Linked DNA regions of Homo sapiens: region 2 is linked to region 1. Evidence: fine-mapped expression QTL. Tissue or cell type: pancreas. Region 1 holds a variant in brackets; the other region holds the start of a gene. All regions are shown on one strand. Distances are between the middles of the regions.

Region 1 (11,252 bases):
TGGCCATCCTCCACTTTTATTTATTTATTTATTTTTGAGACAGAGTTTTGCTCTTGTTGCCCAGGCTGGAGTGCAATGACGCGATCTCTGCTCACCCTGCAACCTCCGCCACCCGGGTTCAAGCTATTCTCCTGCCTCAGCCTCCCGAGTAGCTGGGATTACAGGCATGCACCACCACATCCAGCTAATTTTGTATTTTTAGTAGAGACGGGGTTTCTCCATGTTGGTCAGGCTGGTCTTGAACTCCCGACCTCAGGTGATCCACCCACCTCAACCTCCCAAAGTGCTGGGATTACAGGTGTGAGCCACCGTGCCTGGCCCATCCTCCACTCTTTTCAGTGAGGTTGTTTCATACATGTATCATACCAGATAGGTTATGTTGTCACAATCTGCATTCCATCTGGGATTTCCCCCAGTCCCCCAGTCTCTGTTTTAATCACTTGCTGTTCTCCCTGTTGGTGAAGGAGGGATTCCTGCCCTAGGGTAATGGGGATGACCAAACACATAACACCCAACACAACAGATGATGTGAACAGCAGTCTGTTAGTTACATATACTCTCAGCCTGGAAAAGAACACCGCATACCACTCAGGGCCACACTCTGCATTCAGGAGCAGAATGAACAATCAAGCTGTGGGAGGCAGGCTTTGTGGTATCAAGAGGATGGGGTGCCCCTGGTTCCTGTGGAGGATGTAATTGGTTGTTTGAGTAATTCCAAGAGCTGGCAGGAAACTGAAACCCACTACTCAGGGATTAGCAAAACTTTGCCCGTCCATTTGACAAAGAGCTGGGGGAGCTTACACATGGGAGCAGAGTGGGAAGGAGAACTTACCACTAGGCAATTTAAGGCCCTCCCAGTTTTACCAGATGTCAAGACAACACATAATATTGAGCCTTAATTTTAGGCCTTACACCACAACCACAACCTCCAAAATGTTTTATGGGGTGTTTTGTTTTGTTTTTTGAGACAGGGTCTCACTCTGTAGCCCTGACTAGAGTGCAGTGACATGATCATGGCTCACTACAGTCTCAATCTCTCGGGCTCATCTGATCCTCCCAGCTCAGCCTCCTAAGTAGCTGGGACTACAGATGCATACCACCATGCCTGGCTCATTTTTTATATGTTTTGTAGAGACAGGGTTTCGCCATTTTGCCCAGGCTGGTCTTGAACTCCTGGGCTCAAGCGATTTGCCCACTTCAGTCACCCAAAGTGCTGAGATTACAGGCATGAGCCACCACGCCCAGCCCAAAATGATTTTTTTAAGGATTTGCATACTTTAAGGTTCACTTTGTGCTATAAAGTTCTGTAGGTTTTGACAACTGTATAATGTCATATATCCACTATTACAGTATCATACAGAATAGTTTCATCACCCTAAAATAATAATTCCCTGTGCTTCACCTATTTAACCCTTCACCTCTTTTTACTGTCTCTATAGTTTGCCTTTTTCAGAATGTCATATAATTGGACTCATACAGTATATAGTCTTTCCAGACTGGCTTATTTCCCTTAGCAATGTGCATTTAAGGTTCATCCATATCTTTTCTGACAGCCTCAAATGCTTTTGCAAGAAGCAAAATATAAAACATAAAAACATTTAAGCAAGATTGGTCTCCACTTGAATATATTTTTTCAAACATTTGAAAATAGTTTATACTTTTTAAAGGAATCTTACAATGGTATAGTTTTGTCAAATATTACATTAAATGTATATTTCTTTTTTTTGAGATGGAGTCTCGTTCTGTCGCCAGGCTGGAGTGCAGTGGCACGATCTTGGCTCACTGCAACTTCTGCCTTACAGGTTCAAGTGATTCTCATACCTCGGCCTCCCGAGTAGCTGAGACTACAGGTGAGAGCCACCACACCCAGCTAATTTTTTTGTATTTTTAGCAGAGACAGAGTTTCACCATCTTGGCCAGGATGGTCTTGATCTCTTGACCTCGTGATCTGCCCGCCTCAGCCTCCCAAAGTGCTGGGATTATAGGCATGAGCCACAGCACCCGGCCCATTAACTGTATGTTTCAAGAGAAAATACTCCAAAGAACTAAGCAATTGTATAGCTTTGGTGGTTTCAGTAATTAATAATGTAAGAAAGAAAAGATAAAGACCTAATTATTTTTCTTTTTCTGTAAAGAACATTATTCCTTACGTAATGCTATGGTGTGAATGTTTGTGTCCTGCCAAAATTCAGATGTTGAAAACTAACCCTCAATGATATTAAGAGGTGGGGCCTTTGGGAGGTGATTAGATCATGAGAACTTTGCTCTTGTGCATGAGATTTAATGGCCTTATTAAAATGGCCCCAGAGAGCTGCTTTTCCCTTCTGTTACGTGAGGATAGCAAGAAGGCACCATCTTTGAAGCAGAGAGCCCTTACCAGACACCAAGACTGTCTGTGCCTTGATGTTGATTTCACAGCCTCTAGAACTGTGAGCTATACATTTCTATTGTTTATACATTATCCAGTCTAAGGCATTTTGTTATAGCAGCCCAAACAAATTAAGACACATACATAATCAGTATATGGAATTACTAATTTAATTCTCACAGTCTTTGTATCTGTTATTTCTCTTACACAGAGTAAAACAATTAAATTCAAGTATATCATGAAATGTGTTGAGCTTTTAATTTCAGAAATTAAGCTGGTTTTATGAGGGAAGTTCACTTTCTTTCTGTTAGGAATTTGTTCGGATATACTTTATTTTTTCTGAAATGGGTCAAATTGCTTAACTAAGAAATTTTAACACAGAGGATTTTCTAGGTGCTTCATTGGATTACGTATGCTATAATTGGCCTTTACTAAAAGCCTTTTTTTTTTGGTCTGGAATTAAGACTTTATCATGTTTTTTACTTGCTTAGGCTTCTATGTACTTATTATTAATTCAACCCAAACTCTCTACCAATTGTCTGAAATATTTCAAGACATTGAAATGCATACGGTGTGTTATCAGTTTCATCTTGAACACAGCTATCCTGGAGCTTTCTTACCTGCTTCAATTGTTTGCCTCCCACTCCCGTCTCACAGTTATCACCCAAAATTTTTCCTTCAACACCATCCTGGATATGCCTTTTCTCCTTCTCTTGTGTTGGATTTATTGTTTTCTGCATGCCATAGTTTTCCTTTTGTGTGTTTTTGTTTTTCTTTTTTTTTCCTCCCTAGTTTTAGGAGAAACGTGTCCCACAAGTAGTTTTATGAGAAAGGCTCAGGGAAGCACATTTTTCTGAGACTATATTTGTTGAAAATCTTTATTCTATTCTTACACTTTATAGTTTGGCTGGATATATATATATATAGGGTTTTAAGTTGGAAAACATTTCCTTCAGAATTTTGAAGGTATTGCTCCATCGTCTTCTAATTTCTCTTATTCTTTCTTTTCAAAGTTAAGTTTACTGAAGTATAATTTACATACAGTAAAATTCACCCTAAGTGTAGAGTTTTATATATATATATGTATGTGTATATATATGTGTGTATATATATATGTGTATATATATATATGTGTGTGTGTGTATATATATTTTATTAATTTTTTTTTAAGTAAAGACGGAGTCTCACATTGTTGCTCAGGCTGGTCTCGAACTCCTGAGCACAAGTAATCCTCCTGCCTCGGCCTCCCGAAGTGCTAGGATTACAGATTTGAGCCACCCTGCCTGGCCTAGGTGTAGAGTTCTATGAGCTTCAAAAAATGTATATAGTTGTGGCCAGGTGCAGTGGCTCATGCCTGTAATCCCACACTTTTGGAGGCCAAGGCGGGCAGATCACCTGAGGTCAGGAGCTCGAGACCAGCCTGACCAATATGGAGATACCCCTCTCTACTAAAAATATAAAATTGGCCAGATGTGGTGGCACATGCCTGTAATCCCAGCTACTAGGGAGGCTGAGGCAGGAGAATCACTTGGACCCGGGAGGTGGAGGTTGCGGGGAGCTGAGATTGCGCCATTGCACTCCAGCCTGGGCAACAAGAGCAAAACTCCATCTCAAAAAAAAAAAAAGAAAGAAAAAAGAAAAGAAACTGTATATAGTTGTGTAAATTCCATAATAAAGATATGAAATACCTCCATCACCCAAAAACATTCCCTTATGCCTTTTTGATTTCTGTCCCTCTAGTTTTGCCTTCTTCAGAATGTCATATAAAGAGAATTGTGGCCAGGTACAGTGGCTCATGCCTATAATCCCAGCATTTTGGGAGGCCAAGGCAGGTGGTCCATTTGATGTCAAGAGTTCGAGACCAGGCTGGGCGTGGTGGCTCACGCCTGTAATCCCAGCACTTTGGGAGGCCAAGGCGGGCAGATCCCAAAGGTCGGGAGTTGGAGACCAGCCTGGGCAACATGGCAAAATCCCGTTTCTACTAAAAATACAAAAATTAGCCGGGCCTGGTCGTGGGTGCCTGTAATCCTAGCTACTAGGGAGGCTGAGGCAGGAGAATTGCTTGAACCCAGGAGGCAGAAGTTGCAATGAGCGAGATCATACCATTGTACTCCAGCCTGGGCAACAGAGTGAGACTCCATCTCAAAAAAAAAAAAAATAGTTCAAGACCAGCCTGGCCAATATGGTGAAACCCTATCTCTACTAAAAATACAAAAATTAGGTGGGCATGGTGGTGAGCACCTGTAATCCCAGCTACTCCAGAGGCTGAGGCAGGAGAATTGCTTGAATCCAGGAGGCGGGGGCTGCAGTGGGTCAAGATCTTGCCACTGCACTGCACACCAGCCTGGGAGACACAGCAAGACTCTGTCTGAAAAAAAAAAAAAAAAAAAAAAAAAAAGGACCTGTACAGTATGCAGCCTTTTGTATCCAACTCCTTTCACTTAGCATAATCCTTTTGTTTTGAGACTCATCCATATTGTGTTGCATGTATCAGTAGTTCATTTATTTTTATTGATGAATAGTATTCCATTGTATGCATATACCAAAATTTGTCCATTCTCTACTTACAATGTTTAAGTTGTTTCCAGTTCTTGGAGCAGGAATAGCCTTCTATAAACATTCACACACAAGACTGTGTTTTCATTCTTCTCGAGTAGATATAGTTAAGAGTGGGATTGCTGGGGTTGTATAGTAAATGTATTGTTCACTTTATAAGAAACAGCCGCATTAAAAATTTTTTATTTCAATAGTTTTTAGGGTCCAGGTGGTTTCTGGTTACATGGATACATTCTTTAGTGGTGATTTCTGAAACTTTAACGCACCCATCACCCAAGCAGTGTACAGTGTACCCAATATACAGTCTTTTATACCTAATTTTCCTCCTGAACTTCCCTGATAAGTCCCCAAAGTCCATTACATCATTCTTATGCCTTTGCATCCTCATAGATTAGCTGCCACTTATAAGTGAGAACATATATTTGGTTTTTCATTCCTGAGTTGCTTCACTTAGAATAATGGCCACTAGCTCCATCCAAGTTGCTGCAAAAGACATTATTTCATTCCTTTTTATGGCTGAGTAGTATTCTACTGTGTATATAAAACACATTTTCTTTATCCACTCGTTGGTTGATGGGCACTTAAGTTGGTTATCTTTGCAATTGCGAATTGTGAGAAACAGCCAAATTTTTTTCAAAGTGGCCGTATCATTTTTCATTTCTACCAGCAAAGAATTTCTCATTGGCACTTGATATTGTCATTGTATATTTTTTATTTTAGCCATTCTAGTAGATGTGCAATATTATTCCATTGTATTTCAATTTGCATTTCCCTAAGGACTAATGATGTTGAGCATCTTTGCATCTGTTTATTTGCCATGCATATTTATTATTTGATGAACTATCTGTTCAGATATTTTGCCCATTTAAAAAAATTGGTTTTGGCCAGGCTCGGTGGCTCACGCCTGTAATCCCAGCACTTTGGGAGGCCGAGGCGGATGGATCATGAGGTCAGGAGATCGAGACCGTCCTGGCTAACACGGTAAAACCCCGTCTCTACTAAAAATACAAAAAAAAAATTAGCCGGGTGTGGTGGCAGGTGCCTGTAGTCCCAGCTACTCAGGAGGCTGAGGCAGGAGAATGGCGTGAACCCAAGAGGCAAAGCTTGCAGTGAGCCGAGATCGAGATCATGCCACTGCACTCCAGCCTGGGTGACAGAGTGAGACTCTGTCTCAAAAAAAAAAAAAATGTTTTTTGTTTTCTTTTCTTTTTTTTTTTTTTTGAGATGGAGTCTCACTCTGTGCAGTGGCATGATCTCCACTCACTGCAACCTCCGCCTCCCAGGTTCAAGTGATATGTATGTGTATATATATATATATATATATATACATATCATACATGTATTTATATATTTTCTCCAAACCTTTTTATTTTCTTGTGTCTTTTGGAAAACAGAGAGTTTAGTTGTGATAAAGCCCAATTTATCATTTAAAAAAATAGATAGTGCTTTTTATGTC[G/A]TATCTAAGAAATCTTTGCCTAACCCTAAGTCACAAAGATTTTCTCCTGTTTTTCTCATAGGTTTTTAGAATTTTAGGTTTTACATTTATATCGTTGATCCATCCTGACTTAGTGGTACAAGTCAAGGTTTGAGAGTCTTTTAATTTTATTAAAAATATTTTTTCTGTTCACCTGCAGTTCCATGCAGAGATTCTACTTATTTATTTATTTAACTCTGTTAAGTCTCAGAACAGAGACTCTATTTTTATTTTATTTTTGCATATGGATGTCTAGTTGTTCCAGTACAATTTGCTGAAAAGATTATCCTTTCTTGATTGAATTACCTTGACATCTTTGTCAAAAATCAATGACCATATTTCTGTGAGCCTATATCTGGATTCCATTATGTTTCACTGGTGTATATATCTATTATTACACCAATACTCACTATCTTGACTACTGAAGCTAGTAAAGCCTTGGTTGTTTTTGTTTGTTTGTTTGTTTGTTTGTTTGAAGAGCTGTTTTACTATTCCATTAAGATATGCCATAATTTATTTAACTCAACCTCAACCTCTACTTAGGGGATTTAGTTGTTTCTACTTTTCTTTTTCTTTTCTTTTCTTTTCTTTTTTTTTTTTTTTTTTGAGACACAGTTTCACTCTTGTTGCCCAGGCTGGAGTGCAATGGCATGATCTCAGCTCACTGCAACCTCCACCTCCCGGGTTCAAGCGATTCTCCTGTCTCAGCCTCCTGAGTAGCTGGGATTACAGGTGCCCACCACTACGCCCAGCTAATTTTGGGTATTTTTAGTAGAGAGGGGTTTTCACCATGTTGGCCAGGCTGGACTCCTGACCTCAGGTGATCCACCCACCTCAGCCTCCCAAAGTGCTGGGATTACAGGTGTGAGCCACCGTGCCCAGCCTTCACTTTTCACTCTTGTTGCCCAGGCTGGAGTGCAATGGTGCGATCTCGGCTCACTGCAGCTCTGCCTCCTGTGTTCAAACGATTCTCCTGCCTCAGCCTCCCAAGTAGCTGGGATTACAGGTGCCTGCTACCATGCCCGGCTAATTTTCTGTATTTTTAGTAGAGATGTGGGTTTTCACCATGTTGGGTAGGCTGGTCTTCTAGTGATCTACCCACCTTGGCTTCCCAAAGTTCTGGGATTACAGGCATGAGCCACGCCTGGCCAGTTGTTTCTACTTTTCTACTTCCTTTTTCTTTTTTTCTTTTCTTTTTTTTTTTTTTTTTTGAGACAGAATCTCACTCTGTCACCCAGGTTGGAGTGCAGTAGCATGCTCACAGCTGCAGCCTCAACCTCCTGGGCTCAAGTGATCCTGCCACCTCAGCCTCCCTGGTAGCTGGGGCTACAAGTATGTGCTATGATGCCTGGCTAAATTTTGTATTTTTTGTGGAGATGGGGTTTCGCCATGTTGTCCAGGCTGGTCTTGAACTTCTGGGTTCAAGCAATCTGTCTACCTTGGCCTCCCACAGTGCTGGGATTACAGGCATGAGCCACCACATCCTGTAATCCCAGCACAGCTGCTCTATTTTCTTGTATTATAAATAATACAGCAACAAATTTCCATGGGTAAAACATTGTGTCTTTGTGATAGTGTACATGTTTAGCATTTGGGAATGCTGGTCCAATGTTTCCCAAAATTTCCTCCTAGTTATTAGGTCTAGTTTCAGGTCCAGGCCCACTTGCATCAGCTGTATCATGTAATCAACCAAGCTGTGTGTGGCTGTGTTCTAAGGCACTATGTCTGATCTTAAACAGTGTGCCTTACCTACTAGCTCTATGTTAAAGATTCCCTACTTTCTTCCCTCTTTGGTCAGTTCATGCAAGCCATAGAAAGGTACTTCCTTAAGAAAACAAAAATAAGATGCCCTTTTAGAGTTGAAAAAGTGTGTGTCAGGTCATCAAGGATATTCTGCCTGCTTGACAATTATTTTTGATCATTAGCAAACCAGTGTTCAAACAAGTTTTGATTGGGAGTGAATCACTTTGCTGATTAATCACTGAGGCAAGTTGTAAAACTATTCTTCGTCTGTTTGGGCTGCTGTAACAAAATACCATGAACTGGGTAGATTATTCTTAGGCTATTCTTGCATTTCTATAAAGAAATACCTGAGATTGGGTAATTTACAAAGAAAAGAGGTTTCATTAGCTCATAGCTCTGCAGGCTGTACAGGAAACATGGCAACGACATCTGCTCAGCTTCTGGGGAGGCCTCAAGGAGCTTTTACTCATGGTGGAAGCCAAAGCGGGAGCAGGCATCTTACATGGTACGACAGGAGCAAGCGAGAGTGGTGGGAGGTGCCACACACTTTCAAACGACCAGATCTCATGAGAATTCACTAGCTAGAGGATGGCACCAAGCCATGAGGGGTCTGCCCCTCATGACCCAAATACCTCCCACCTGGCCCCACTTCCACCATTGGGGATTACTGTTCAACATGAAATTTGGTGGAGACATATATTCAAACGATACTATATATTCATATATATATTCAAACTATATCAATTATATACAACGAAAATGTATTTCTCACAGTTCTGGAGGCTGGGAAGTCCAAGATCAAGGTGTAGGCAGATTCAGTGTCTAGTGAGGGCCATTTCTGCTCCCAGGATGGTATCTTGAATGCTGCATCCTTACAAATGCTGTGTCCTCATATGGTGGAAGGGATAGAAAGACAAAAGGGGACAAACGCTATTTCCTTATGTGATGGAAGGCTTAGGGCAAACAGGGCCATACTGGGTGTGAAGCCTGTTTTATAAAGTCCTTATTCGCATTCATGGGGATGAGCCCTCATGACCTCACTACCTCCTAAAGGCCCCACCCCTCAATACTATAACATTGGGACATTAAGTTTCCACTTGAATTTTGGAGTGAGCTATTGTTAGAATATTTATCCCCATCAAAATGTATGTTGAAATTTAATTGTCATTATAACAGTGTTAAGTGGGACCTTTAAGAAGTGATCCTGGCTGGGCAAGGTGGCTCACACTTGTGATCCCAGCACTTTGGGAGGCTGAGGTGGGTGGATCATTTGAGGTCAGGAGTTCGAGACTAGCCTGACCAACATGGTAAAACCCCATCTCTGCAAAAAAAATTCAAAAATTAGCTGGGTGTGGTGGCATGTACTGTAGTACCAGCTACTTGGGAGGCTGAGCCAGGAGAATTGGTTGAACTAGGGAGGCGGAGATTGCAGTGAGCCGAGATGACACCACGGCACTCCAGCCTCGGTGACAGAGCGAGACTCCGTCTCAAAAACAAAACAAAAAAGAAGAGGTGATCCTGCTCTCATGAGTGGAATTAATAAGGGTGAATTCAGCCTCCTTTTGTCTCTCTTGTCCTTCGTTCTTCTGCCATATGAAGATGCAGTAAGAAGGCCCACACAAGCTGCCTGCACCTTGATCTTGGACTTCCAGTCTCTAAAATTGTAACAGTATAAATTCCTGTTCTTTGTAAATATCCAGTCTCAGTTATTCTGTTATAGCAGCAAAAAACAGACTAAGACAAAAGAACACAAACACAAACCATAGCAAGCTCTAAGCTGTATTAAAATGATATTTGGGACCGGGCGCAATGACTCATGCCTGTAATCCCAGCACTCTGGGAGGCCGAGGTGGGTGGATCACCTGAGGTCAGGAGTTCGAGACCAGCCTGACCAACATGGAGAAACCCCGTCTCTACTACAAATACAAAATTAGCTGGGCGTGATGGTGCATGCCTATAATCCCAGCTACTTGGGAGGCTGAGGCAGGAGAATCGCTTGAAGCCGGGAGGCAGAGGTTGCAGGGTAAGCCGAGATAACGCCATTGCACTCCTGCCTGGGCAACAAGAGCAAAACTCCATCTCAAAAAAAAAAAAAAAAAAAAAAAAGATAATTGGTAAACGTCAGAAAGGGGTCTGTCATTCCTCCAGGGCTAGGCTCCTGCAATGTGGTGGCTTCTCCAGCATTAGACTCCTGCCATGTGCACTGACCAGAGGCACCTCATGACTACAAGCTTCCCAAAGAACCTTTTTGAGCAGCTTCACAGCAGAATGCTGTTGACAAGCCACCTCCTCAGTGCAACTGGTGCTCTTTCTGGTGGTTTTCCAGGATGTCCCAGAGGCAAGACACATCATCTAGTGAGCTATGTTGCACTTTCTCTGACATCTAGATCTCAGCTCTGGGGATAAGGAGGACTCTTCCTTGGGTGCTGTATCTCAGCTCCAGGGACAGTGGCTACTCCATTTCTGCTTTCTCTTTAGAGTTCTTTTTAACTTCTAATACCCAGCCCCTCATTACCTGAATCCCTTAAACTTCGTGTTCAAATTACTGTTATTTCTTTCTCTTCACTGAACTCTGATATGCTGTTTTTATTAGATGTTTAAATGTTTTATTTTACATTCTGCTGCTGAGCAATGTTTAAATTTTTATACTCTACATGTTATTTATACGTACATAGTGAATTACCATGTTTTAGTCCAATAATCAAGGTTTTTTGTTGGTGGTGGTTTTTTTGAGACACAGTTTTGCTCTGTCACCCAGGCTGGAATGCAGTGGCACAATCTCAGCTCACTGCAACCTCCGCCTACTGGGTTCAAGCAATTTTTGTGCCTCAGTCCCCCGAGGAGCTGGGATTACAGCTGCTTGCCTCCATGACCAACTAATTTTTTGTATTTTTAGTAGAGATGGGGTTTCAGCATGTTGTCCAGGCTGGTCTCAAACTCCTGAGCTCAGGCAATCTGCCTGCCTTGGCCTCCCAAAGTGCTGGGATTACAGGCGTGAGCCACCACGGCTGGCCCAAGGTTTACTTATTGCAAAGAAATAAGAAAAACTTGGTTAGTGGGCTAAAACATGGTAGTTCATTACATACATATAGTGCCTGTCTATGCTTGCAT
Region 2 (11,038 bases), 23 kb after region 1:
GGTGGAGGTGGAGGGAGGCTTGAACCCGGAAGGTGGAGGTTGCAGTGAGCCGAGATTGCGCCATTGCACTCCAGCTTGGATGACGGAGTGAGACTCTGTCTCAAAAAAAACTGAGAAAACTAAAAATAAAATGTTGCCAGAGCTGCTTTCCGTTCTAGGAGGGAGAATCTGTTTTCTTTCCTTTCTCAGCTTCTAGAGACTGCCCAAACTCCTTGGTTTATTGCTCCCTTGCATCTTCAAAACCAGTGATACTGTAGTTCCCCCCCGTTTCTGTGGGTTAAGTTCCAACACCCTCAGTGGATGCCTGAAACCACAATACCAAACCCTATATATACTGTTTTTTCGGTACATGTGTACCTGTGATGAAGTTAAATTTATGAATTAGGCACCATAAAAGATTAACAACAACTAATAGAACAATCATAACAGTATACTGTAATAAAAGTTATGTGAATGTGGTCGGTCTCTTTTTCTCAAAATATCTTATTGTCCTGTACTCAACTATTTTTAAACCATGGTTGGCCATGGGGTAACAAACCCTGAAATCCTGCAAAGGGAAACCTTGGATAAGTGGAGACTACTGTAGTCTTTCTCACATTGCATTACTCTTTATTCTGCATCTGTCTTATTCTTTTTCCTTTCCTTTTATTTTTATTTGTAGTAGAGACAAGGTCTCACTGTTGTCCAGACTGGTCTTGAACTCCTGAATCTTCCTGTCTTGGTCTCTCAAAGGGTTCGGGTGCCCTGCCATCCTTCTCCTACTTTTAAGGCCCCTTGTGATTACATTGACTCCATCCAGGTAACTTCCTTATCTCGAGTTTCGCTAATTAGCAACCTTAATTCCCTCTGCAATTATAATTGTCCTTTGCCACATAACCTAATTTATTCGTAGGTTGAGGGGATTAATACCTTGTTATCTTTGGAGACAGCCATTATTCTGCCTACCACGGGGACTATGAGAAATGAGGTCAGTGTAGAAAAGGTAGGACAGGTGTCAACCATTAAGGAACCAAGCAGTGTGACAGGCATTATGTCAGTCTCTTTACTCCAGACATTCCCAGAATTGAAGACAGGAGAGAATTATTTTTCCTCCTCTCTCTAGTGTTCGGTGGTTCTTTTTGGTGTATGTCAAACCATGTAAATTTTGCCCTGATCAAGTAAACCCTTGGCTTTCTTTAAAGAGGTCTATGAAGGCTAGTCAGACCCTCCAATTTTCTATACAATTGCTAGGTTTAGGTCAGGGCTAGTGACTGTATCAACTTTTTTTTTTTTTTTTTTTTTGAGACAGGGTCTCACCTGTCACCTGGCCTGGAGTGCAGTGGTGCCATCGCGACTCACTGCAACCTCTACCTCCCGGGTTCAAGCAATTCTTGTGCCTCAGCCTCCCAAGTAGCTGGGACTACAGGCGCACGCCACCACCACGCCTGGCTAATATTTTGTATTTTTAGTAGAGACAGGGTTTCACCATGTTGGCCAGGCTGGTCTCGAACTCCTGACCTCCAGTGATCAGCACCCCCTCAGTCTCCCAAAGTTCTGGGATGACAGGTGTGAGCCACCACGCCCAGCCAGGACTAGATCAACATCTGAAACGGATGATCTAAGGCTGTTAGCCTAGGCATTCACCCCCTGACATTTTGCTTTTTGGCAGTGATAGAAACTATGTTAAGTCCTGCATCCATGGTTCTGATACAATCAAGTCTCTTGACCACCAGGACTCAGCACTGAGACCTGCCTCTTTTTATTTCTACAATACATGAAATTACTGTTGACTTTTGTCTTTAAAACATCACATAAATTCATTAGGAGCAATTCAAGGGAGAATTTACTGTACATTCATACCTATGATAAAGTTTAATTTATGAATTAGCACGGTAAGATTAACAACAACTAATAATAAGGCTGGGTGCGGTGGCTTACACCTGTATCCCAGCACTTTGGGAGGCTGAGGCAGGCAGATCACCTGAGGTTGGGAGTTCGAGACTAGCCTAACAAAACAAAACAAAAAAAGCTCAAAAAACAACAATAATAAAATAGAACACATTTAAAACTTTTAATCCTGTGTTATTATTCTGATTTGAGGTCTATACTTTCAATTTTGTACCTCCTGGCTATATTTTATATAATAGAGAACATCCTGGTTACACTCATCCTTCCCCCACCTCACTTCCTTTGCATTCTAAGGCTGTGGTATGCAAATTTCTGTTATTAAGAAACAATTTTTTTTTTTGAGACGGAGTTTTGCTCTTGTTGCCCAGGCTGGAGTGCAATGATGCTATCTTGGCTCACCGCAACCTCCGTCTCCCGGGGTCAAGTGATTCTCCTGCCTCAGCCTCTCAAGTAGCTGGGATTACAGGCATCGACCACCATGCCCGGCTAATTTTGTATTTTTAGTAGAGATGGGGTTTCTCCATGTTGGTCAGGCTGGTCTTGAACTCCCGACCTCAGGTGATCCGCCCACCTCAGCCTCCCAAAGTGCTGGGATTACAGGCGTGAGCCACCGCACCCGGCCATCAACAAACAATTTAAACTAGACAGCCTGGCATGGTGGCTTACACTTGTAATCGCAGCACTCTGGGAGGCTAAGGTGGGAGGATCACTTGAGCCCAGGACAGCCTGGGCAACATAGAGAGACCCCATCTCTACAAATAATAAAAAAAATATGGTTCACGCCTGTAATCTTAGCACTTTGGGAGGCCAAGGCGGGAAGATTGCTTAAACCGAGGAGTTCGAGACCAGCCTGGACAATGTAGTGAAACCCTGTCTCCACAAAATTTTTTTTTTAAAAAGAGCTGAACAGGTTGGCGCAAGCCTATACTCCCAGCTGCTCAGGAAGCTGAGGGGGGAGGATTGCTTGAGCCCAGGAGTTTGAGGCTGCTGTGAGCTATGATTGCACCATTGCACTCCAGTCAGGGCAACAGAGTGAGACTCTGTTTCAAAACAAAACAAAAGGAAAACTTGTAGAAAGAAGTTTAAATTTCAGTGCTAAGTTTCCCACTTCAAGTGAACACTTTTTTCCCATTGGCTTTGAAATCTCAGAAAGGTTACTGTGAGAAAGGAGCATATTTAGGGTTGAGCATTGGAGAGGAGACTGGTGGTTTGGGACACCTGTTATTAAAGTACCTTCCTGGTCAAGTTGAACAACAACAACAAAAAATTGGCAATCTTTATGACAGTGCCAATCAAATTGTGGACATGAGGTGGGATGCATCACTTGAAAGCCATACTTTTGAGATACATATTTTAAAACTCTTACCTAGAGTATAATGGTGGTTACCAGAGAGAGGCTGGGAGTTGCGGGGAAGGGAAGGGTGCTGGTCAAAGGATACAAAGTCACAGACAGGAGGAATAAATTATAAGTATTGAAGGTGATGTATATGTTAATTTGAGTGAATCATTCCATACTGCATACATATAAAATTACTGAATATCCCATAACTATATATGATTATAATTGGTCAAAGTAAATAAAAATTTTAAAACTCTTCAATTTTATAAAACTCTTACCTAATATTAATTTTTAATATCATATGAGGATTTTTTTTTTTAAGAGCCTAGGCTAGAGTAACTTACTACAACCTCAAACTTCTGGGCCGAAGCAGCTCTCCTGCCTCAGCCTCCTGTCCCAAGCAGCTGGGACTACAGATGCGCACCATCACGACCAGATAATTTTTAAATTTTTTGTAGAGACAGGGTCTTGCTATGTTGCTCAGGTTGGCCTCAAACTCCTGGTCTCAAGTGATCTTCCTCAGACTCCCAAAGTGCTGGGATTACAGGCATGAGCCACCTCGCCCAGCCAGGATTTTAAAATTCTTTTTTAACCTTGGAGATACCAGAATTGTATTACTCATTATCCTTGGTTCCTAATAGCATTGGTTCATGCATGTTCTGCTTTTATTTACATATTAGCTATTTACCTTTAACAATATAGTAGCCCTGATAGGCCCAACTCCTACATTGTAGGACATCCATGATCTCCTCCCCAATCCCATCCCATCCCCAAGCTCCCCATATGCGAGGTAACCATCATTCTGAATTTCATATTTATCATTCTTTGCTTTTTGTTTTGTATAATTTTAATGACTTCATGTATACTCTTAAATGTAAGGGTGTGTTTATTTTCAACTTTTAAAAAGGTTGTCATACTGTATATAATCTTTTGGGATTTACAGTTTTTCCTTACTATTGTTATGATTTCTCTATATTGTGGGTCACTGAAGTTCATTCTTTTTGAATGCCATGTAATATTATGTTATAAGAAATATCACAGTTTATTCATCCAGTATCCTGTTGCTAGTTATGCAGATCGCTTTCAGGTTCTTGTGAACTATGAAGGAGTAAATAAAGACCAACCAGGTAATTTTCTTAAAATAAATAATAATAAAAAACCAAAAATGTAAAATATTAAATAGTAATGTTTAAAGTGGAAGTATAAATCTCCCTGTAGTCATATTCTCAGAGATAACCAGTGTTAAAATTTGGGATATCTCTTGTCTTCTTTAAAATATAATGCATATCTGCATATACATATTATATACATATACTATATACACATTAAGTTTTTTAAAACAAAAATGAGATCTATAACTTGCTGTTTCCATAGCAATATATCATGGATATCATTACTTGTCAATATGTAGAGATGTACTTTATCCTTTTTAACAGTTCTTTGGTGTTTCACTGTCGACATGTCAATATTTATTCCCTAAACCCCAACTTTGGTTATTTTCAATTTTGTACTGTTGTAAACAATGTTGTAATGCAGATTCTTGTACATACATCTTCGGGCATTTGCTCAATTATTTCCTTAAGATAATTTCCTAGAACTGGAATTGCTGGGTTGAAGGATATGAAGTTTTATTTTTGTCTGTCTTCAACTTTATTTATTTATTGCTGTATATTGCCATATTGCCCACCAAATATCAATTAATAATTTACATTCTTGGCATCATAGTATAGTTCTCTGAGCAGGGAATACCTAGTCCAACCTGAAGTTCAAGAGCGACTTCTTGGAGGAGGTGACCCTGGGTCTGAGTCATGGTGAGAATTTATCAAGACTTCAAAAGAGCAGATAAATAATCCACAAGGACCCCGGATCAGAGAGTGCTCCGAGCTGGGTTGCCCCACTGTGCTTGTATCTGCACTCTCCAACACTAGGCATCATTGACATGTTAAAGCTTAGCCAAATAGAATTGTTCTTTGTCATTCTTTTTTTAACTTTTACTTATTCATTAGGATGATTTCATAATATATTTCCTGGTTTAGAGGAAACAGGAACAATGGCTACCGAGAGTACTCCCTCAGAGATCATAGAAAGAGAAAGAAAAAAGTTGCTTGAAATCCTTCAACATGATCCTGATTCTATCTTAGACACGTTAACTTCTCGGAGGCTGATTTCTGAGGAAGAGTATGAGACTCTGGAGAATGTTACAGATCTCCTGAAGAAAAGTCGGAAGCTGTTAATTTTGGTACAGAAAAAGGGAGAGGCGACCTGTCAGCATTTTCTCAAGTGTTTATTTAGTACTTTTCCACAGTCAGCTGCCATTTGCGGCTTAAGGCATGGTAAGTTGACTTTGTATACTTTTTGGGGTGAGAGGAAGGGGGCAGACTTTCTGAAAAAGAAAACAAAATGAAAGAAAATTGTTGCCTTTTATTTTTGTTAGTCTTTTTCTGGAGATAATTTTCATTGAAATATGAAATAGGGAAAAACTGGAATTTAAAAAGTTTCTGAAATTTAACATCTTATTGGTCTACTGAATCGATAATTTGTTTTTCAGACTGTACTCAAAACTTGAAGTTGTTTTAGTGCTAACAAACTGCTCATTATTCTGGCAGTAACATGCTAAAATCTCACAGTTGGAAGGAAAATACTTTAATAATAACACAATCCAGGGTTTGTTTTTCAAGTAGATGAATTCGTGGATATTTACAGTGCCAAGACCACAAGCTGTATCTTTCACTTAGTATAGCCGTTTTGAAAATACAAGGAAAATAATTTTTAACACATAGATGGCAAATCAGTAGTTTCATTTTTTTGGTGATAAGAATGCCAGCAGCAGCTGTTTTCTGGAGCAATTCCAGTGCTAATTCTTAAATGGTTCAAAGATAACTAGTAGTCCATGAAAAAGCAATTCTTCCAGTTATTTAGCAATTCTGTAAATTACTACTAGGACTAGGTCTAGCTCTTTTTCTAGGAATCTAAAAAAAAATTCAAAATTATTTTAAGGGATGTTAGAGAGGTAGAGGCTCAGATAAAAAGGTGAATGTTAGTGATACCTAATTTAGGACAAGATTTATATGCTTAGAAATTTTTCTTTTATTATTTCTAAAGCACACTATTCCAAATAGAGCCATTTGCTTACTGATTAGAAATTATTTGTGATCAGATTTCATTAGCAATGACCCCAAGAGACGTGAGTCTGTTGTGAGTCACAGTAAGTCCACAAGTAAACACTGTTCATATGATTCAAATTTTTCGTTTTATTCACTTACCCTGTAAGGTTGCTAGGAAGGACTCAAACTTTAAGCAAGACAGTGGTGTGATCTGATTTTTTTTTTTAGTGGAAAAAAGAAAGTTCTGAAAGTTGACATGTTGACATGCAAGTTATATAGGAGGTGTTAGGTATTCCTGTCCTCCAGTGAAATAAGAGGTGGCTGGGCGCTGTGGCTCACACCTGTAATCCCAGCACTTTGGGAGGCCGGGGCAGATGGATCACCTGAGGTCAGGAGTTTGAGACCAGCCTGACCAACATAGTGAAACACTGTCTCTACTAAAAATACAAAAATTAGCTGGGCATCATGGCGCATGCCTGTAATCCCAGCTACTTGGGAGACTGAGGCAGGGGAATCACCTGAACCCGGGAGGTTGAGGTTGCAGTGAGCCCAGATCGTGCCATTGCACTCCAGCCTCGGCAACAAGAGTGAAACTCTGTCTCAAAAAATAAATAAATAAATAAAAGGAGAGGGATGAAGCTTTGAGGCCTCAGGAACTCTAGCTGTTATACAGCTTCTTTTTCTTAATTGGGAAAAACAATTCTTTTCTTTGCAGAAGTTTTAAAACATGAGAATACAGTACCTCCTCAATCTATGGGGGCAAGCAGTAATTCAGAAGATGCTTTTTCTCCTGGAATAAAACAGCCTGAAGCCCCTGAGATCACAGTGTTCTTCAGTGAGAAGGAACACTTGGATTTGGAAACCTCTGAGTTTTTCAGGGACAAGAAAACTAGTTATAGGGAAACAGCTTTGTCTGCCAGGAAGAATGAGAAGGAATATGACACACCAGAAGTCACATTATCATATTCAGTTGAGAAAGTTGGATGTGAAGTTCCAGCAACTATTACATATATAAAAGATGGACAGAGATATGAGGAGCTAGATGATTCTTTATACTTAGGAAAAGAGGAATATCTAGGATCTGTTGACACCCCTGAAGATGCAGAAGCCACTGTGGAAGAGGAGGTTTATGATGACCCAGAGCACGTTGGATATGATGGTGAAGAGGACTTCGAGAATTCAGAAACCACAGAGTTCTCTGGTGAAGAACCAAGTTATGAGGGATCAGAAACCAGCCTTTCATTGGAGGAGGAACAGGAGAAAAGTATAGAAGGTATGGAAATATCTTGTATAGTTAGTTAGGCAACAACTTAATAAGTTAATAAGCTTGCCATGACATAATGGGGATGGGGGATGAAAAAGGGACAGATGTCAGCAGAAAATCAACTACTAAGAAATTCCTCGTGCCTCTCTGACCTGGAATCTCCTCGAGGTAGGTGTTGACTTAAAGGAGCTCCCAGGACCTAGGAAATGATGGACAGCATAAGCAAAAGTAAATATTGATTGTCAGTTTGTAAATTTCTGTAGTTCGTATAAGGAGTTGCCAATCATTAATTTCCCATTATACGTACGAGGAGTTGCTAATCATTAATTTCAGGCTAACCTATTTCTCAGGTTAAACCACTTTAGTTATTTTAGTGCCTTTGTGACCAGAGAGATATGGGGATTATGGGTTTGACTATTTAAGTGAAAACAGTCAGTAAATGGCTAAGATCCCAAAATATTGTTACTTGGCTTGATCCAGTCCACATAATGCCATCTTGATGAGAATTATATTTGTATCTTGAATCTGAATATTTCTTTATTTAAAAAAAATTTGTTTTTAAACAGGGTCTCACTCAGGCTGGAGTGCAGTGGCACAATCATGACTCACCGCAGCCTCTACCTCCCAGGCTCGGGTGATCCTCCTACCTCAGCCTCCTGAGTAGCTAGCATTACAGGTGCCTGCCACCACGCCTGGCTAATTTTGTATTTTGTAAAGATGGGATTTTGCCATGTTGCTCAGGCTGGTCTCGAACTCCTGGGCTCAAGTGATCTGCCCACCTTGGCCACCCAAAATCCTGGGATTACAGGTGTGAGCCACTGCACCTAGCCAAATCTGAATATTTCTTAATGAAAATTCAAAATATGAGAAGTGTTTCATTGGAGTGATATTGCCTGGGAAAACAGACATCACTAAGTTCTGAGTAGAGGATGAAAATGTAGCTACCATCTCACATTAATTTCAAATCTTGGGGACTCATAATCCACTTATGGGTAGGAAGAGAGTCATTTCTTCCTCATCACACCTTGTATCAGTTTGTGAGGGATGCTGTAACAAAATACCACAAAATCAGTGGCTTAAACAATAAACACAGATTTCTTGTCTCACTCTTTTGGAGGCTAGAAATCTGAAATCAAAGTATCAAAGTACTGACAGGGTTGCTTCCTTCTTTTTTTTTTTTTTTTTTTGAAACAGAGTCTCACTCGTCGCCCAGGCTGGAGTGCAATGGTGTGACCTTGCTCACTGTACCCTCCGCCTCCCGGGTTCAAGCGATTCACCTGCCTCAGCTCCCCAGGTAGCTGGGATTACAGGTGCGTGCCACCACGCCTGGCTAATTTTTGTTGTTTTAGTAGAGACGAGGTTACACCATGTTGGCCAGGCTGGTCTCGAACTCCTAACCTCAAGTAATCCACCCACCTTGGCCTCCCAAAATGCTGGGATTAAGGCATGAGCCACTGTGCCTGGACAAGGGTTGGTTCCTTCTGAAGGATGTGATCTGAAGGATCCTAGCTTTCCTGGTGGTTTGCTGGAAATCATTGACACTGCTTGGCTTGTGCAAGCATCCCTCTGATATGCCTTCACCTTCAAATGTCCTTGTCCCTGAGTGTGCACCCCTTTGGCCAAAATAAAAAAGGACACCAGTCATATTGGATTAGGGCCCACCCTAATAACATTATTAAAACTAATTACATCTGCAATGGCCCTATTTCCAAATAACATCACATTCTGAGGTACTGGGGGTTAGGATTTCAACATATGAATTTTGTAAGGGACATAATTCAACCCATGCCTCTTGCCCCACCCCCAAATAACTTCTTAATACATGATTATTTTGGGGCCCCATTCTTAATTTTTATTTATTTATTTTAGTTGGTGCATAGGGTTGAATTAATTAATTCATTGCATAGTATCATCATTATTCTGCAAAAATCCCCTGTTTATCTATTCTGTTTTTTTCTCCATTTCCCATTTACCTTCTTCCGTAGGTAACATTCTAATATTGCAGTGCATCTCTTACATATTGTTTGGTTTTCATGAAATTTTTTTTCTGTATCAGGTACTGACTGGGTTTCACCACGTTGCCCAGGCTGGTCTTGAACTCCTGGCCTCAATAATGCTACATAACAAATCATCTGAAAATTCAGTCACTTCAAACACTGAGAGTTTATTATTGTTCACATGTCTGTGGTTGGCTGGGCAGTTCTGCTGGTCTTCCCTGGGTTCACTCATGCATCTGTGATGAGGTGGTTGAAGGCTGGTCTCTCATCTTCAAGCAGGCTACTCTGGGCTTGTTTTCAGAATAGATGCAGTATATTCTTTTTTTTTTTTTTGAGATGGAGGCTCACTCTGTTGCCCAGGCTGGAGTGCAGTGGCATGATCTTGGCTCACTGCAACCTCTGCCTCCTGGGTTCAAGCGATTCTCCTGCCTCAGCCTCCTGAGTAGCTGGGATTACAGGTGCCCACTACCACGCCTGGCTAATTTTTGTATTTTTAGTAGAGATGGGGTTTCACCATGTTGGCCAGGCTGGTCTCGAACTCTTGACCTCAGGTGATCCACCCACCTCGGCCTCCCAAAGTGCTGGAATTATGGACATGAGCCACCGCGCCTGGCCAAGTATATTCTTATGATGAGGGTAAAGGAGAGAGAAAGGGAGAGAGAGCAAGGTGGAGGGGGGGAGACAGAGAAGTAGTGAAGGCCTTTTGAGTCTTAGCTTTAGAACGATCATCATGCCATCTATGCCATCTGTATCTGTTTCCTAGGGCTGCTGTAACAAAGTACCACAAATGAGTGGCTTTAGAACAACAAAAATTTCTTGTCTCACAGTTCAGGAGGCCAGAAGCCTGATATCAAGGTATCAGGAGGGTCATGCTCCCTCTGGAGGTGCTAGGAAAGGATTTGTCTCAGGCTTCTCTCCTAGCCCCTGGTAGCTTCGTGCATTCCTTGACTTACAGATGGCCATTTTCTCCCTGTGTCTCTTCACATCATCTATCCTCTGTGCATGTCTCTGTGTCTAAATTTTTCTTTTTTATTAAGACACCAATTATACTGATTTAGGCCCCCCTCCATGACCTTATTTTAACTTAATTACCTCTGTAAAGATAAAGATGCTATTTACAAAATAAAGCCACATTCTGCATTACTGGGGGACTTCATATCTTTTTGAGGGGGACAAAATTCAACCCATAACACCATTACTTCTGCCACATTCTGTTGACCAAAGCAAGTCTCAAAGCCAGGTTTAGGGTTGGGGGAAAACAAGTTCTACTTCTTGCAAAATAAGATAGCAAAGACTATGGATACCAGAAAGCCATTAACTGGGGACATTATTACAATCAGTCTAACATCTTTAGTAAAACAGATCAAGAGAAGTCTTAATAATAATGTAGTTATGATCTGCAATGTAATTCTAATGGCTGCCCATCCACTCTAGTTGACTGGAGGCA

Direction of the effects. Alleles are on the strand shown, and positions count from the first base shown. SD is a standard deviation of normalised expression in the study named.
As copies of A replace G in region 1, the expression in pancreas of the gene that starts at base 5,261 in region 2 goes down (small effect, 0.33 SD a copy in GTEx).

The links. PIP is the estimated chance that this variant, and not a neighbour inherited with it, causes the effect.
Region 2: it holds the start of CARD6, and the variant in region 1 is fine-mapped to the expression of CARD6 in pancreas (GTEx, PIP 0.92).

What each region holds. Positions count from the first base shown.
Region 1 is chr5:40,813,247-40,824,498 of GRCh38, forward strand. No RefSeq gene overlaps it. Among named protein-coding and RNA genes, the nearest start is that of SNORD72, 14 kb to the right of the region's middle. The variant G/A (reference allele first, on the strand shown) is at 6,381.
Region 2 is chr5:40,836,107-40,847,144 of GRCh38, forward strand. CARD6 (caspase recruitment domain family member 6) reads left to right here and starts at 5,261. Exons shown (of 3, transcript NM_032587.4): 1 at 5,261-5,559; 2 at 7,046-7,603. The coding sequence starts at 5,277. RefSeq lists an enhancer at 1-518.